Homo sapiens: one gene and its partner. The protein of the gene in region 1 interacts with the protein of each later gene in a pairwise test. Each region holds a gene or a part of one and is shown on either strand. Other genes may lie near its edges. The genes, in order: GNA13 and CXCR5.

What was found.
Region 2: the proteins of GNA13 (region 1) and CXCR5 interact in binary tests that used the Homo sapiens proteins (3 or more experiments, as listed by UniProt).

What each region holds. Positions count from the first base shown.
Region 1 is NC_000017.11:65,049,929-65,053,740, reverse strand, and holds part of GNA13 (guanine nucleotide-binding protein subunit alpha-13), read left to right. Parts: intron 1-12; coding exon 13-239; intron 240-3,812. UniProt on the Homo sapiens protein: Guanine nucleotide-binding proteins (G proteins) are involved as modulators or transducers in various transmembrane signaling systems.
Region 2 is NC_000011.10:118,882,710-118,887,002, forward strand, and holds the start of CXCR5 (C-X-C chemokine receptor type 5), read left to right. Parts: upstream 1-1,182; 5' UTR 1,183-1,232; coding exon 1,233-1,283; intron 1,284-3,417; exon of another isoform or gene 3,418-4,293. UniProt on the Homo sapiens protein: Cytokine receptor that binds to B-lymphocyte chemoattractant (BLC). Involved in B-cell migration into B-cell follicles of spleen and Peyer patches but not into those of mesenteric or peripheral lymph nodes.

The DNA of each region.
Region 1 (3,812 bases):
TTTTAAACAAAGGTATGAGGGTGCTGGTTGATGCTCGAGAGAAGCTTCATATTCCCTGGGGAGACAACTCAAACCAACAACATGGAGATAAGATGATGTCGTTTGATACCCGGGCCCCCATGGCAGCCCAAGGAATGGTGGAAACAAGGGTTTTCTTACAATATCTTCCTGCTATAAGAGCATTATGGGCAGACAGCGGCATACAGAATGCCTATGACCGGCGTCGAGAATTTCAACTGGTAAGAGATTTGCTCTTTTAAAACGTGTGGTTTTATTTTAATGATGTTTAGTAATACAGGTTGCACATCCCTAATGCGAAAATTCGAAATGTTCCCAAATCTAAAAGTATTTGAGATGGAGGAACAGACTGAAAGGCTAAGGCACAGACCTAATGTGTCCTAGTCTCTAATGACTACGTGTAAAAATAGTGTATAAAATTACCTTTAGGCTACATATCTTAAGGTATATATGAAACATAAATGAATTTCTAGTTTAGACTTGAGTCCCATTCCCAGCATATCTCATATGTATGCAGATATTTCAAAAATCTGAAAAAATTCAAAATCCAAAACACTTCTGGTCCCAGGCATTCGGATAAGGGACACTCAACCTGTATCTGATTTTAGCACACTTTTTTCACTGACTTCCATAATTTAATGTATCTATCCAAAATTATAGCCTCAGAAATTTGTTTTTTTGTTTTTGGGGGGTTTGTTTTGAGACGGAGTCTCTGTTGCCCAGGCTGGAGTGCAGTGGTGTGATCTTGGCCCACTGCAACCTCTGCCCCCAGGGTTCAAGCAACTCTCCTGCCTCAGCCTCCTGTGTAGCTGGGTCTATAGGCGCGTGCCACCACACCTAGCTAATTTTTGTCTTTTTAGTAGAGGCAGTTTCGCCATGTTGGCCAGGCTGATCTTGAACTCCTGACCTCAGGTAATGTGCCCACTTTGACCTCCCAAATTGCTGGCATTGTGCCAGGCATTTTTCCCCTTTTTTCTTTAACGAGACTACCCATAAAATGCTTTGTAGCTGTTACACAGCATTGAAGACAGGTTTGGAATAAAAGTATCCAATCCAGGTTAAAGATACAGAATACAGTTGAAACAAATTTTTAATCAAGTGTTTTGTAATTTAACTGTGAATGCTGTGATTGGGTTTTATTTGCCAAAGATCAGAAAGATTCCAGCAGTGATAGAAATCTAGACTGTGTGCAATTTGGAGGTAGTTCAGATCTGAAGTGTTTTACTCTAATATGATTAAAATGAAGTGACAGTTAAAAGTAAAACTGCTGGCTGGGCACGGTGGCTCATGCCTGTAATCCCAGCACTTTGGGAGTCTGAGGCGGGTGGATCACCTGATGTCAGAAGTTTGAAACCAGCCTGGCCAACACGGTGAAACACCGTCTCTTCTAAAAATACAAAAATTAGCCAGGTGTGGTGGCAGGCACCTGTAATCCCAGCTACTCAGGAGGCTGAGGCAGGAGACTCGCTTGAACTCTGGAAGCGGAGGCTGCGGTAAGCCGAGTTCGTGCCACTGCACTCCAGCCTGGGCAACAAGAGCAGAACTCCATCTCCAAAAAAAAAATAAATAAGCTGCTTAGGAAGTTGTTTGATGATGTCACCAACATTAATCCACATTAATGGGTGTGGCTGCAAAGCGATGTACAACCAGCAGTCCTTGCTGTTATTATTTATACTTAGAAGCAGTCTTGCCTTTTAAAAGTTCCAGGAAAGTGTTCACGATAGCTTTTTATAAAACTGACACCTTAATTTTGACTATATCTGAATTATGGCTTTTATATCTGTCATTCAACTAGCATTTGATTATTTACCGTCTTGTATAGTTCTCTTCTATCATGTTTGTATCTTGTCTTTTCAAGTAATGTGTTTATTTCTGAAAGGCAGGGACTGTCTCACATTATTGTTAAAATTACGTAGCTGCCAGTATTGCATGTTGAAAATGATGAATTTAACTTGACAAATGACCTCCATCCAATTCCCAGATTTCTGGTTAGTTTTGTCCCTTGATCAATGTTTATTACTTTATTTTTGGTAGATTTGCTTGCATGAGTTCTTCCATATACCCCTTTCCATCGCCCATCACTCTACCTCCTGTTTTTTGTTTTTTTGCATTTTTTTGAGAGTTTTGTTCTTGTTGCCCAGGCTGGAGTGCAGTGGCGCGATCTTGGCTCACCTCCGCCTCCTGGGTTCAGGCGATTCTCCTGCCTCAGCCTCCCAAGTAGCTGAGATTACAGGCATGCGCCACCACACCTGGCTAATTTTGTATTTTTAGTAGAGACAGTGTTTCTCCATGTTGGTCAAGCTGGTCTCTAACTCCTGACCTCAGGTGATCTGCCTGCCTTGCCCTCCCAAAGTGCTGGGATTACAGGCATGAGCCACTGTGCCTGGCCATCTACCTCCTGTTTTTAAGTGCTGCTTATTCTCCTTTCTTCTTAGTTCATTTTCTCAACAAACCACACACTTTCAACTCAATTTTGTCAGGCTCTATTCATCCTTCCAGGTCAGAGAAGAAACATTCATCTGTAATAAGCATACAGTGCATATGGATTAAATGAATAAATAAAGAACTGCATACCTGAAAGTTCTCTGTGGGGAAGTTCCGTATTTGCCCTAAGTCCATTTAATTAAAGTTGTGTTTCATGGACAGTTTTTTAATTTGGAAGCTGACGTCTAACTGTCTCACATCAGGACTGTCATGTCCTCATTGTTGAGAAAGCATCCCTAAGTATATCTTTGTGATTAAGAACGAATAGGTAAAACCACTCAGGATGAGGACCTGCTTGTTGTTGACTTGAGCCAGTTGATCCTTAAGGAGCAAAGAAGTCCTCAAAGATGAGGAGAGATAAGTTCCAGAAATACTTTTTTCCATGATGAAAAGTAGAGACAAGAAAAGAGGAACAGAGCAAGACCTAATTTTAAACTTCTGGAGGACAGAGATTCTTTTTTCCTGAGTCTACGCTCAGCATTGTTTTTTGTTTTTTTGTTTTTGTTTTTTAAGAGAAGGTCTCACTGTTGCCCAGGCTGGAGTGCCCTGTTGTGATCATAGCTCACTGTAGACTCAACTCCTGGGCTCAAGTGATTCTCCAGCTTCAGTCTCTCAAGTAGCTAGGACTACAGGTGTGTGCCGTCACACCCAGCTAATTTAAAAAAAAATTTTTGTAGAGACGGAGTCTTGCTATGTTGCCAGTGCTGGTCTTGGACTCCTGACCTCAAGCAGTCCTCCTGCCTTGGCTTCCCAAAATGTTGGGATTATAGGCATGAACCACTGTGCGTGGCTTCAGCATTGTTAATAGCACCTGACACATAGAGATGCTCCATTATTATGTTGACTTAATGACTCTTAAACTCTTGGATGTGCTGTGGTGCTTGGCATAGTGTCAGGCACTGAGAAGGCACTTGGCTTACTTAAAATTTTCCTCAAAGTCATCATCAATTCCATCTACTCATCTACATGCAGCAGCTCCCCAAGTTCTGATTTTTCTACCTCTGTAACGTCTCTTGCATTCATTCCCTCCTTTCCTCTATTTTGTGTTCTGCTACCTCTTGCTTGGACTCCAAGGCAGTCTTGTTCAAACACAGCATTGGTTTGCTCAGAAAGCTTTGGTGGCTCACCATTGTCTTCAGAACAGAGCTCAGCTTTTTTGTGGGAGTAAAGACTCTAGCTAGCTTACCTGTGATTCCAGCAATATATTTCATTAGGCCACTGGACATACTCTGTAATCTCTTGATTCCCACATACCCTAATTTTTTGCTTCTATAGCTCTCATCATGCGTAGTCCCTCTGCCAGAATTATT
Region 2 (4,293 bases), on another chromosome or scaffold:
TGGAAGAAAAAGCCACAAAATGAGACTTGGAAGGGAAATTGATCAACATCTACAAAACGGCTTCTTAAAGGAAGCGGCCCTCAGACAGGACAGAGTTGAGGGAAAGGACAGAGGTTATGAGTGCCTGCAAGAGTGGCAGCCTGGAGTAGAGAAAACACTAAAGGTGGAGTCAAAAGACCTGAGTTCAAGTCCCAGCTCTGCCACTGGTTAGCTGTGGGATCTCGGGTAAGTTGCTCTCCCTCTCGGCCTCACGGACCTCCTGAATAAAAATTGAGGGTTAGACTGGATGATCTCTGAAGCCATCTCTAGCTTGGTAGTTTATGAGGTTAATAATTTATGAGCAAACAAAGTTAATTTATAGATAGAACATCATTATTTTTGAGTCAGAAAATGACTCTGTAACTATGTGCTTTTCTTGGTGATTTCACTTTTTTTTTTTCTTTTAGAGACATGGTCTTGCTATGTTGCCCAGGCTGGTATCCAACTCCTGGCCTCAAGCCATCCTCCTGCCTCGGCCTTCCAAAGTTGATTTCATTTTTGTCTTCCAGTATTGTTTTACTGTTGTTCCCTTTGAAAAATTCTAACCTATCTTTTCTGAACTTGAGCTGAGAAGGGAAGGGGTTTTGCCTCTGTTGGGCAAAAGGATGGTGGCAAGTAGTGTGACCAAGTGCCCTAACTTGCCAGGACTTAGGGGTTTCCCAAGTCAAGGGACTTTTCAGTCCTTGGCAGACTGGAATGGTTGATCACCCTAGTGGTGAGGAAAATGAAGGTTTGGAGGTGGCTTGGAGGAGAGGTTGCTGGGAGAGCTCTTCTCCTGTTCTCTGTTGATCAGGAGTTTCCCTCATCAACCTGCTGACTTTGCGTGGTGGTTTCATTACAAGTTGTGAGCCCCTTATTGGGGGTATAGGGAGGAGAAGTGAGGGCAGCCTTTAAACTAGTCATAGGCCCCAGTTGAGACAATTATTGCCGGGAAAGAAGCTGAAATGCTTGACTAGCACTGATGCTGTGGGGGATTTTCCCTCTTTCTTCAAAAAAACAGAAAAGACCCAGTGGAAAAAAAAAAAAAAGTGATGAGTTGTGAGGCAGGTCGCGGCCCTACTGCCTCAGGAGACGATGCGCAGCTCATTTGCTTAAATTTGCAGCTGACGGCTGCCACCTCTCTAGAGGCACCTGGCGGGGAGCCTCTCAACATAAGACAGTGACCAGTCTGGTGACTCACAGCCGGCACAGCCATGAACTACCCGCTAACGCTGGAAATGGACCTCGAGAACCTGGAGGACCTGGTGAGTAGACACGGGTAGCTTCCTGTCGCCGAGGCCCTGTCTGGAATTCTAACATCCTTTGCCAGAGTCCGAGGGAGAGGGGACAGTGTGGGAATCCTCTCCCACTGTGGATCTGTAAAATCTAGACAGGTCAGTCAGCTCCCGCCCTTTAAGAGTTTATTTTCCATTCTGTGGAAGAAGCAGATAAGGAGAGCTGCTGTCCTTAGGAGACATCCTTTAGAGGAAGCTGGAAGACACGGGTTCAGGCCCTGCATCCTCCTCTGAGTTGCTATGTGACTGGGAACAGGATACTTCACCTCTCCATTCTTTCTCTCCTTTTCTCTTAGGGTCGGAATATGGAACTAGACAGGAAAGTACTTTGGAGGTTTTCTTACCGTAAGGAGGCTGGCATTGCTAATCAGTCAATGAATGCATAGCTGTTCGTCTCTGGCCATATGATTATGTCATCAGGGCACTACATTCTGTGTTGGGTGGAGAAGTTGAGGACCTGGTCTTTGCCCTCAAATAGCTTCTGCTCTGGCCAGAGAAAAAAATCACTCACTGGAAGCTATTAGGCAACAATTATGTGCTAAACTGAGGGAATGTGAGACCAGATGGTAGCAAGGAAGAGGATCCCAGCAGGCTGGAGTCAGGGAGCAGGGTGAGAAAACTGTTAATCTGACAAATGTCTTGGAACCTGTTGTAGAATCTCTAGAGATAAGGTATTCTTGGAAAGGTTTCTTGGGTGGGCTAAGAAAATGGTCTCCAGCACTACGCTGCCACCACTCAAGTCTCTCCAGTGAAGCGTAGTGGTGCAGTTGACTTGGTTGTCACTGGGCTCCCAGAAGATGTGTGTGTGTGTGGAGCAGCTCAACCAGAGAAACACAGGGTTCCTTGTGAGCCGACGGCAGAGGCTGGTTGTAAGGGTTTCTTGGAAACTTCTTCACTGTCTTTTCTCCCCCTGGAGAGAGGACTTGTTTCGGGGCTGCACTCTGGGTTAGATCATGAAGGAGCCAAACCCTGGCTCCTACCAACTCTCCTGTCCCAAACTTACCCTAAGATATTGTCTGACTCCCTCCTGCTCCCCCGGCTGGAGTGGACTTTGTGGAGTGGACTTTGTAGTTCCACCAACCATGTTCCCAGACTTGCTCAGAGAAGCCCGCCTCTCGCTTGCCCAGATCCCAAGGCTGGGAAGTGTAAGTAGGACACGGGGAGAAAGTGGGCAGAAGGGCTGACTACCCAAAGCCTGGCCCCTCGGATCCAAACCGTAGGTGGAATCAGAGCCGGACCATTCATCTAACCAGGACCTGCTACATAATTTGTGGGACCCAATGCAAAATGAAAACATGGGGCCCCTTGTTGAAAAATTATTATAAATAAGAAGGCAACAGCAGAGCACTAAACCTCGTGGGGGGTCCTGCTGGGTGCAGGCCCCCGTGTGACTGCCCCAGTTGCAAGCCCATGAAGCTGCCCTGAGTCTAATCACAGAGTCTGGGCAATACCCCAAATCAGACTAAAAACCCGCGGCCCCAAAGGGGCAATGTGCTCCCACCCTGGCCCCCGGTCACAGCCGCTGGCCTCGCCTGATTAGGTTACTGGGCGTCTTCCTCTGCCTGCAGCTTCAAACTGACCACGAGCCCTGACCCAGTTGGACATCTTAGTAACCAACTGGAGACCCGGCGGGTCCCAGCTTCTGAGAAACCTTAAGAGTTTCCCCTAACTGCACGCCTCACCTCACTGAGTGACCTACTAGGGACAGGTGGGGGCAGGGGGCAGGGGCAGCAGGGCATGTCCCAAGAAAACCTACATCTGGGGGAAAGGGACCCAGTGACTTTCTTCATGTCACACCTCAAATGAGTGATCCTCAGCCAGGCATTCCAATATCTGGATCCCTCACTCAGGGTCTAGCCAGGAGCCCAGGAGTCCTAGGACCATCTGGGCTCTGGAGCTCTTCAGCCAGCCACCAGTGCCTCGTTCCCCCTTCACGAATCTCCTACACACCCTGTCTCCAGGGCCAATGTCCCCTCAGAACACAGACCCTCTCCTCCGCCCCCACCCACTCACTGAAGGGCCGTGAGCAGCTTGGCAGACTGTCCCTCAGTGTCACAGTACAAAAACCTCGGGCGTAGTGGTACAGGCAGGAGAATCTTGCATGTAGCAGCTTCTCAATAAGTATTTATTGATTTGTGATGCAGTAAAGGTCTTAGCTCACCATTTTCCTCTGGAGTTAGTCTGGGTCCTTCTATTCCTTCTGCTTCCTATTCTCCTCCTTGTCCTTGCCCATACCAGGTATTGGTTCACATTCCTTGAACGCTGGGTTTTACACTCTCATGTTGAGCTAAGAACTGGGGCCTTTTGGTTACACAAACTTGCCAGAAAAAAAAAAAAAAAAGGAACTGGGGGCTCCTGGCCATAAGCCAGGTTCGTCATTCTGTATTCCATTTGTCCTCTTGAACTCGAAGACCAACTCGAGCCGCTTAAAATGTCCACTTCTTTAAGGCAGGGGCTGGGGGGTGGGGACGGGCTGCTAATTCTCATCAATGAAAGGTCCAAATAGAACAAAAATTAGATGGCTAAGAACCAGGAACAAGAAGATTCCAGGTCCTGGGGTGGGTATGCCAGGGACCCATCCTGCTGGAAAGGCCGATCCTGGCAGACCTAGAGCAGACCCTGTCTATGCGACCCTCGATCTGAGAGCCTCCTTCCAACAGAACCAGGGCCTGGGCTGGGGCATCCACAGAGGCTGGTCATAAACTATACCTCCAGCCCCACCCTGCACACCAGCCGGGAGGGGAAGCTGCTATAGCGCACGGTGAAGCTGGTCCAAGCCCCAGAGCCTGGCTTTCTATGACCCCTCTCCATAGACAATTACCACACATCATGACTTCAGTGTGACCAGAGCATCACAGGCGACACAGCCCGTCCACGTGGACCATCTCATTTCATCATGTAGGTGTGAAGAAGAGGAACCAAAACCAGCTCAGGCTGTTTCTGGGCTTCATCTAGGGGAAAGGGAGGTTCTCCACCCGCC